3 linked regions of the Homo sapiens genome follow. The protein of the gene in region 2 purifies or fractionates together with the protein of the main gene of each other region. This does not show direct contact. Each region holds a gene or a part of one and is shown on either strand. Other genes may lie near its edges.

The links.
Region 1: the proteins of DCC (region 2) and EIF4E purify together in Homo sapiens (affinity purification with western blotting; 2 studies listed by BioGRID, with this or other methods). This does not show direct contact.
Region 3: the proteins of DCC (region 2) and EIF5A2 purify together in Homo sapiens (affinity purification with western blotting; one study listed by BioGRID and IntAct). This does not show direct contact.

What each region holds. Positions count from the first base shown.
Region 1 is NC_000004.12:98,881,455-98,884,293, forward strand, and holds part of EIF4E (eukaryotic translation initiation factor 4E), read right to left. Parts: intron 1-2,839. UniProt on the Homo sapiens protein: Acts in the cytoplasm to initiate and regulate protein synthesis and is required in the nucleus for export of a subset of mRNAs from the nucleus to the cytoplasm which promotes processes such as RNA capping, processing and splicing.
Region 2 is NC_000018.10:53,207,543-53,211,202, reverse strand, and holds part of DCC (netrin receptor DCC), read right to left. Parts: intron 3,525-3,660; coding exon 3,386-3,524; intron 1-3,385. UniProt on the Homo sapiens protein: Receptor for netrin required for axon guidance. Mediates axon attraction of neuronal growth cones in the developing nervous system upon ligand binding. Its association with UNC5 proteins may trigger signaling for axon repulsion.
Region 3 is NC_000003.12:170,895,109-170,898,768, forward strand, and holds part of EIF5A2 (eukaryotic translation initiation factor 5A-2), read right to left. Parts: intron 1-3,660. UniProt on the Homo sapiens protein: Translation factor that promotes translation elongation and termination, particularly upon ribosome stalling at specific amino acid sequence contexts.

The sequences.
Region 1 (2,839 bases), on a different chromosome or scaffold from region 2:
AAGTAAGGACAGTCCCTGAGCTGACTGCATTTATAGTCTAGTAGAGAAAACATAATCAAATAATCACAAATACATGACAGACCTGTATCACATGCATACTTAAAAACAGAAATCTGTAAAACAAACATGTTTCATTCTTTGATCTAAAATGTTACATTTCACGTCTGAACCCTAGCAAATATTGTATATTACTACACAAATTATATTAACCATACCTGTTATAAGACTGCACAAACAAAAACTAAACACTTTGAGGGAGATTAAACACTTCGAGGGAGTGAATGAAACACTTCGAGGGAGAATGTAATTTCTGCTTTACATACTAACTTTACAACCTAATTTTCAAGTAAGACATGACTCTATTGCAAGAATAAAATGGCACTTGTCATGAGTGCCAAAGAGTAAACATAAGGGCTGTGATACTGTATAACAAGGAGATTCTAATCTCATCTACAACATTAGAGAAGTCTTCCCCTTTAAATATCACGAGGTCAAAAGGATAATGTTAAGAGAATGAGCACATTTGAAAGCTGAGAAATAAAAATTAGGCTGTGTGGCTATGGCTTGTAAGTAAAGTGAACATGAGATAAAGCTGACAAGGTTTCAGAGGAAGATCACAGAGAGCTTCATAGGTCATCTTAAAAATTTGAATCTTTGGCTGGGCGCGGTGGCTCACGCCTGTAATCCCAGCACTTTGGGAGGCCGAGGCGGGCGGATCACGAGGTCAGGAGATCGAGACCATCCTGGCTAACATGGTGAAACCCCGCCTCTACTAAAAATACAAAAAATTAGCCGGGTGTGGTGGCAGGTGCCTGTAGTCCCAGCAACTCGGGAGGCTGAGGCAGGAGAATGGCGTGAACCTGGGAGGCAGAGCTTGCAGTGAGCTTGAGTGAGACTGTGCCACTGCACTCCAGCCTGGGTGACAGAGCAAGACTCCGTCTCAAAAAAAAAAAAAAAAAAGAAAAAAGAATCTTTAGGAAAAAAATAGTAAAAATTCAAAAATAAGCAAAAATCAAATAAAAATAAAGGAATAAAGATATTAATGGAGTTAAATCCTCCAACATGATACTAGGATAGGTTTTTTTTATACCTTCCAGAAGATTTACTACCTTCCCCCTAAAATAAGGTATTAAAAAGTAATTTTATGGTAACTAAAGTGTTAATTATCAAATTTGCATTATAATGCAATGCATTCCTTTCAATTATACTTAATTATTAAAAATGTCAAAAAGCAAGACCATTGAGTCATGCAAATTGGAAGGTTAAAAAAGAAAATCTTCGTTTGAAAATCTGAAGTCTTAATATACACTCAAAAACATTTAATATTGACAAAAATACAAAACTTCCGTAGGAAAAAAATTCTTAATTTAACTCATTTAAAAAAAAAAAAAGTAAATCCTCCAAAATTAGGTTTTGATGCTGGAAGAAACATTAAAATATGATGACAAATCAACTCTTTTCTCTTATGGAACCCCATATAGCATGAAATGTAGAAAATCCCTATACCTTTTGATCCAGAAATAAATTATGTTCACATAAAAATTTACATGGCTGAGAGCAATGGATCACGCCTGAAATCCCAGCACTTTGGGAGGCTGAGGCAGGTGGATGACTTGAGGCTAGGAGTTTGACACCAGCCTGGCCAACATGGCGAAACCCTGTCTCTACAAAAACTACTGCAGTGGTTCAGGCCTGTGGTCCCAGCTATTCAGGAGGCTGAGGCAAGAGAATCACTTGAACCCAAGAGGTGGAGGTTGCAGTGAGCTGACATCGCGCTACTGCACCCCAGCCTGGGCAACAGAGTGTGACTCTGTCTCAAAAAATTAATTAATTTTAAAAAGAAAAATTAATAATATTTGAAAAATCACAAAGGGGCAAACCAAACATTTTGACCACTGACTGACCAGCACTTAATTTTAACATAAAATTGTAAGTCAAATTTTTTTTTTTTTTTTTTTTTTTGTGAGACAGTCTCGCTCTGTCTCCCAGGCTGGAGCGCAGTGGCCCAATCTTGGCTCACTGCAAGCTCCGCCTCCCGGGTTCATGCCATTCTCCTGCCTCAGTCTCCCAAGTAGCTGGAACTACAGGCGCCCGCCACCACGCCCAGCTAATTGTTTTTTTTGTATTTTTAGTAGAGACGGGGTTTCACCGTGTTGGCCAGGATGGTCTCAATCTCCTGACCTTGTGATCCACCTGCCTCAGCCTCCCAAAGTGCTGCGATTACAGGTGTGAGCCACTGCGCCTGGTGTCAAATATTACTAATATAATTGAGGTAAAAAGAAATCTTAGAAAAAAAATGTCAGCTGGTTTAGCATGGTGGCTCACGCCTGTAATCTCAGCACTTTGAAAGGCTGAGGTGGCTTGATCAAGTCCAGGAGTTCATGACCAGTCTGGGCAACATGGCAAAACCTCTTCTCTACAAAAAATACAAGAAAATAGCCAGGTGTGGTCATACACACCTGTAGTTGCAGCTAATTGGGTGGCTGAGGTAGGAGTATCACCTGAGCCCAGGAGGTTGAGGCTGAAGTGAGCCATGACTGCACCACTGCACTCTTGCCTGAATAACACAGTGAGACCCTGTCTCAAAAAAAAAAAAAAAGCCACTTTTGCAAAGAATAAAATTTACAAAAAAAGGTTTAATAAAACCCTACATATGTGGGTTTTAAACATGGAACAAAAACCAAGATATGTTATATAAATTTTAATGAAAATTATACGTAGTAAACACACATGCTTTAAATGCACATATACTATTTGCCAATAATCACTGAATTATTATTATGAGCATACATTAGCTCTTTTCAAAGTAGTACTTTTTTCCAAACAGCACTTTCAAAGT
Region 2 (3,660 bases):
ATTAGTAAGTATTCAAGAAATATTAATAACATTCATAAAAATAATAAGCACATTCTTATGTTGCCTATGAAATCAGGTCCTTCTGCATTTGGACACAGGACAAGCTGGCATGGAAACTTTCAATGGTTCATTCGTTCATAAAAGCTCTTAGTGACTTACCAACTAGTGCAAGAGACAGTATTTTGGAACAAATTGGCAAAATTATTTAGATGATCATATGCTGTATAATCTCAGTGGTGTGAAAAAAAAATGGCTCATTGTAAACCAGTGGTTTTCTAGGTGGAGGAATTTGAATAAAAAATAAGGTTTCTACTCAGAAAATAAAGCCGAGCTAAATTAGAGATGACAGCTCATCTGGACAAAGATCTTTACAAGCATCCCAGTAGAACAGGGAAAAAAAAACATAAAGTAATGAAATTGGAAGAAATGTATTTACACTTAACTTTTGCTTTTTTAAAAATTTTTCTATGTCTCAATATATTTTTTATGGTAAGACTCCTGATATGAAAAGAATTATTATGTTCACTATAATACAGATGCATTTAGACACAGTCATATATTAAATTAATATATCAAATTAGTTCCACAAATGGGAAATCCTAAAGATAAGCCTTTGCATACAGAAATTTGCACAGTTTTGACTGAGCTGTCTAATTAATTCGATAAATATTTACTCAGGAAGAAAACAGAGGTGAATATAACAGCATCCTTCATATTTAGGGGTATTTAATATTAATATAATGAGAAAAAGTGAAGTGCACTTTGGTAGAGATAATGTTTATTAAACACTTAAATGTCATACACTTTGTTAGATGTTTACACAGATCAGCCCATTTAATTTTCACAACATCCACCTGTTACAACATACATAAAGTTAACGAAGAAGAGTGCTCCATGACTGAAGACTGGGAAGCAGGTGACTATTAAATGTGATTAAATACAACTCAATGTGATATATGACCTCAGCATGAACAGCTTCAGGACAGAGGAGGAGACATGAGATTGAAGTAGACAGAAAGGAACTGGATAATAAGGAAATGAAAGCCAAGAGCCACACATTTGTGTTGGACATTAAAAGAGATGGGTTGATTGTAAAAATGAATGCAAACGAGGTCACGGTGTCCACTCTAAGAAGCTTATAAAGTCCTTGCTATCTCCTTTCAGTGCATTTGAGAGAGAGAATTTGGTGTCCTTTGCACAGTGATGTTTATTGGGGTTAGGGTCACGAAATACTTTTTTTATACTGACAGACACTGTCTAAGTCCTAAACATTGTAACATTTCCAGAAGATAATTCTTGGACTAATGAATAATAATCTATCTTTCTCACTTATGACATTTAAAACCAAAGTGGAGAATCAGGCCACAGTATTACAGTTCAGAGTGAATGAAATCTACATAAATTATGTAAAACATTCACTTTCATTTGTTTTTCTTTTATTTTTATAATTATAAGTTGTGAAGTAATTTATTCTACCAATAAATATTCTGTTCTGTCTTCAATAACAGAATTGGATGGATGGGCCTAAGAATTACATTAAAAATGATACCAAAGTGGTATTACGTATAAAATACATTTTAAAGTTGAATTTGCAAATGAGCATTATTCCTGTGTTCTCTTTGTACTGTCCTTAATAATATGCATGCCCTTCCTCATTTCACTGATATTGTGTGAAATGTACACCCAGGTACTTTCCCAGAATAAACAATGATAGATCTGTCAAGAAATCACAAGCTAAAGTCATTTTTTAATTAAAAAGATAAATAATTTATAGAATTAAACACACCAAATGGAAATTGTTGCTGAAAAGAGCTAGCTTGTGGCCTTTTTTAATATTCACAAGGGCCTATCGCTACATTTCTGCACCTGCCTGAGTTTTCGTTGGCCCCACATCATATACTTTGATGTATTTTATTTTCACTTTTTATAAAATTTCCCAACCTTTCATGATCATCTAGCAGTTAGGTTTCTAGTTTCCCCTGGCCATTATTTTGTCAAATTTATTCTCTTTATTAAGATTTGTTCCTCTCTTTTATGGCATTCAAAAACAGGTCTAGCCTGGGCAACAAAGTGAGACCCTGCCTCTGCAAAAAATAAAAATATTAGCTGGGTGCTGTGGCCTATGCCTGTAGTTCCAGCTACTCGGGAGGCTTCGGCAGGAAAATCCCTTGAGGCTGGGTGCAGTGGCTCACGCTTGTAATCCCAGCACTATGTGAGGCCAAGGCGGGTGGATCACTTGAGGTCAGGAGTTCCAGACCAGCCTGCTCAGCATGGTGAAACTCTGTCTCTACTAAAAATACAAAAACTAGCCAGGGGTGGTGGCATGCACCTGTAATCCCAGGTACTCAGGAGGCTGGGGGCAGGAGAATCACTTAAACCCGAGAGGTGGAGGTTGCAGTGAGCTGAGACTGCACCACTGCATGCCAACCTGGGTGACAGAGCGAGACTCCGTTTCCAAAAAAGGAAAAGAAAAGAAAAGCCCTTGAGCCCAGGAATAAAGGGTGTAGTGAAGCACAATTGAGTCACTGCACTTCTTGTCTCAAATGTGTGTGTTTGTGTCTATTCTTCCATTTAGTAGGCAACATACACATTTTTCATGCTCAATTTTAATACTTTAAATTTTAATATCAGCTTATTTGGCCTAATTCCTTTTGATATATTTTCTAATTAAGAGGTAAATATAGGGGGATTGTCTATCATTTACACCTTTAATCATCTGCACACTTTTAGATGGGGGAATAAAACATGCCAATCAAAATTAATCCACACATGCACAAATGTGTATTAGAAAATGTAAAGAAATAAAAAATACACAAAGTTTTAGCTCTTAGTCAATAGTCACATTTTGAGGATTACCTATTAGTATATACTGACTCAAGAGTATATACATATGTATATACATATATACATATATATTTATTTAATTTGGAGAAAGGGTCTTACTCTGTTGCCCAGGCTGGAGTGCAGTAGAACGATCACAGCTTACTGCAGTCTTGAACTCCCAGGCTCAAGTGATCCTCCAGAATGAGCCTCCCAAGTAGCTGGGATCGCAGGTGCATGCCACCATATCCAGTTAATTAAAAAAAAAAAAAAAAAACATTTACAGAGATAGGGTCTCACTATGTTGTTCAGGTGGGTCTTGAACTCCTAGGCTTAACTCATCCTCCTGCCTCAGTCTCTTAAAGTGCTAGGATTACCTGTGTGAACTACCACATCCAGCTGGGAGTATGTATCTTGATAGAAAGTTTACATTTAACTGTAATAGTCCATAAAATTTTAGTCAGGAAGCCTTGAAAATGGAATATATGATATATGTGCAATATCATGTCATTATTGTCAATATTATGTCAAATATGTAAAAGGAGTTTCACTGTTTTTAACTTACCGTCAGAAAGTGTAACCACTGTTATATCATCAGTAGAGACGCCCGGACCATAGCGATTATAAGCTAAGAATCGAAGACTATATTCGGTGAATTTTTTCAGGCCTTCCAGTTTATAAGATAGTCCATCAACCTCTATATTCTGGAGACATAAAACACCAAAACTGTTATCAAGGAAGCACATTAAAGTAGAAATGGCACTCATTCTGTGCAATCAGTGAATTGGACATTAGACTCTTACAAACTACACTCCAGCCTTCTAATGAGCTATAAAACCT
Region 3 (3,660 bases), on a different chromosome or scaffold from region 2:
TTCTAAGCAGAAAATGTAAACCTACCTTAGTTAACTACCACATATCTGCATGGACATACTATTACTGATTTAACCAATTTCACATTACTGGGCATAAAAGTTATTTTTGCTATTACAAACAATGCATTTTCTAATTTGAGTATGAACAAAATTAAGTGGAAAACTTTTGGTCTTCAGTCAACAACAACAACAACAACAAAATCCACTAGTGTATGGATAACATTAGTGAAAAAAAAAAACCCAGTTGTCAACCCAACCTGCAAAAAAGCACGGTTTTGATACCACTGAACTTCTTTTACTACAGGAATGAGTAAACAACCAACCTCCACTCATTTATTCTATTAATAAAAGCATGTACACTATTAGTATGCCTCGAATCCTAACATGTTTTATAAAAGGCTACCATCCAGAATACCAGCTACTAATATCTACAAAAGGAGTCAAAGACAATGGTCCTTGAACCCCTGTAACCACTATGATATAACCCAGGCATATCGTTGGGATTGCTCTCCTCCACATACACCATCTACCAAAACTGCCTATGGCTCTCCACAGAAACTCCATCTATCACAGGAAATTTGAGTTTTTATATGTCTAGAAATCTCAAAAATAAGAAATCCTACAGAGCTACAACAAAGACTTTTAACTAACCTCTTAGACCCTCAAATATTTGTGAGGTGGCTGGTAGAGAAGTGGGAGCAAGGAGGTTGAGGTAGAAGTGTAACTTTTTAAAAAATATATATATTTTTAAAGATGGGCGTCTCATTATATTGCCTAGGCTGGCCTCGAACTCCTGGGGTCAAGTGAGCCTCTGCTTTAGCCTTCCAAGGAGCTGGGACTATAGGTGTGCACCAATGCACCTAGCTTGAAGTGTAATTTTTAAACAACCACAACATTCCAAGACAAATCTTTCTGATTTCTGTTCTTTTAGTAATTCCCTAAAGCACAGCTTGTCTATTTCAAGAGTTAAATGTTCGTACTGTGCCACTAGTGACTGAAACACAGAAGCCAAATAATAATACTGATATTTTGAAAATGATGTATGTAATGGAGCTATTTTATTTTTTAAGAGTTAAGAATCATAAACTGTGGAATGAAATATATAAAGCATTTCAGATGTACAAATATATAAAACATCTAGTAAAACAATGCATTTACAAACATTAAACATTAAGATAAATTGCTATATTAAATACAATTAGTTTTCAAAAATAAAACTAAGCTACGAAAAACAAAAATAATGAGAATGAATTATTTAATCTTTGATATGGTTTGGCTCTGTGTCCCCACCCAAATCTCATCTTGAATTGTAATCCCCACATGTCGAGGGAGGGAGCTGGTGGGACGCAATTGGATCATGGGGTCAGTCTCCGCAATGCTGTTGTCATGATAGTGAGTGAGTTCTCTTCAAAGTGTTTAGCAGTTCCCCCCTCACTTGCTGTATCTCCTGCTGCCATGTAAGATGTGCCTTGCTTCCCCTTCGCCTTCTGCCGTGGTTCCTGAGGCCTCCATAGCCATGTGGAACTGTGACTCAATTAAATTTCTTTTCTTTATAAATTACCCAGTCTCAGGTAGTTCTTTATAGCAGTGTGAAAAAGGACTAATACAGAAAATTGGTACCAGGAGTTTGGGCCACTGCTATAAAGATGCCTGAAAATAAGGAAACAACTTTGGAACTGGGTAACAGGCAGAGACTGCAACAGTTTAGAGGGCTCAGAAGAAAGAAAGATGAGGGAGAATTTGAAACTTCCTAGAGACTTGTTGAATGGATTTGAACAAAATGCTGACAATGATATGGACAGTGAAGTCCAGGCTGAGGTGGTTTCAGATGGAGATGAGGAACTCACTGGGAACTGGAACAAAGGTCACTCCTGCCGTGCTTTAGCAAAGAGACTGGCAGCATTTTGCCCTGCCCTAGAGATCTGTGGAACTATGAACTTGAGAGAGATGATTTAGGTTACCTGGCATAAGAAATTTCTAAGCAGCAAAGTGTGCAAGAGGTAACCTGGCTTTTTTTGAAAGTGTACAGTCATATGCATTCATGAAGAGATGATCTGAAACTGGAGCTCATGTTTAAAAGGGAAGCATAGCATAGAAGTTTGAAAAATGTACATCCTGACCATGTAGTAGAAAAGAAAAACCCATTTTCTGGGAAGAAATTCAAGCCAGCTGCAGAAATTTGCATAAGTTACAAGGAGCTGAATATTAATAGCCAAGACAATGGGGAAAATGTCTCCAGGGCATTCCAGATATCTTCATGGCATCCCCTCCCAACACAGGTCCAGAGGCCTAGGAGGGAAAAATGGTTTCATGGGCCAGGCCCAGAGCCCTGCTGCTCTGTATAGCCTCGGGACTTGGTGCCCTGTGTCCCAGCCACTCCAGCTCCAGCTGTGGCTAAAAGGGGTCAAGGTACAGCTTGGGCTGTTGCTTCAGAGAGTGTAAGCCCTAATCCTTGGTGGCTTCCATGTGGTGTTGGGCCTGCAGGTACACAGAAGGCAAGAGTTGAGGTTTGGGAGCCTCCGCCTAGATTTCAGAGGATGTATGAAATGCCTGGAGGTCCAAGCAGAAGTCTGCTGCAGGGGCAGAGCCCTCATGGAGAACCTCTGCTAGGGCAGTGTGGAAGGGAAATGTCAGGTTAGATCCCCCACACAGAGTCCCCACTGGGACACTGCCTAGTGGAGCTGTGAGAAGGGGGGTCACCATCTTCTAGATTCCAGAATGGTGTACCATGTGCCTGGAAAAGCCACAGGCACTCAATACCAACCAGTGAAAGCAGCTGCAGAGGCTGTACCCTGTAGAGCCACAGGGGTGGAGCTGCCCAAGACCTTGGGAGCCTACCTTTTGGATCAGTGTGCCCTGGATGTAAGACATGGAGGCAAAGGAGATTATTTTGGAGCTTTAAGACTGAATGGCTACCCTGCTAGGTTTCGGACTTGTATGGGACCTGTAGCTCCTTTGTTTTGGCCAATTTCTCCCATTTGAAATAACAGTATTTACCCAATGCCTGTATCCTCATTGTTTCTAGGAAGTAACTGACTTGCTTTTCATTTTACAGGCTCATAGGCGGAAGGGACTTCCCTTGTTTCAGATGAGACTTTGGACTTGGACTTTTGGGTTAATGCTGGAATGAGTTAAGACTTTCAGGGACTGTTGAGAAGGCATGATTGTGTTTTGAAAGTGAGAACATGAGATTTGGAAGGGGCCAGGGACAGAATAATATGATTTGGCTCTGTGTCCTCACCCAAATCTCATCTTGAATTATAATCCCCACATGTCAAGGGAGGAACCTGGTAGGAGGTGATTGGATCATGGGGGCAGTTTCCCTCATGCTGTTCTCATGATAGTAAGTGAGTTCTCATGAGATCTGATGGCTTAAAAGTGTTTGACAGATCCCCCCTGCTTGCTGTCTCTCCTGCTGCCATATAAAACATGCCTTGCTTCCCTTTCACCTTCCTCCATGATTGTAAGTTTCCTGAGGCCTCCCCAGCCATGTGGAACTGTGAATCAGTTAAATCTCTTTTCTTATAAGTTACTCAGTTTCAGGTAGTTCTTTATAGCAGTGTGAAAATGGACTAATACAATCTTTTAAATTGAATTATTTATTAAAAAATCTTAAGTTCTATAGAAAAGTTGCAATAATGCAATGAAATCCCATATCCT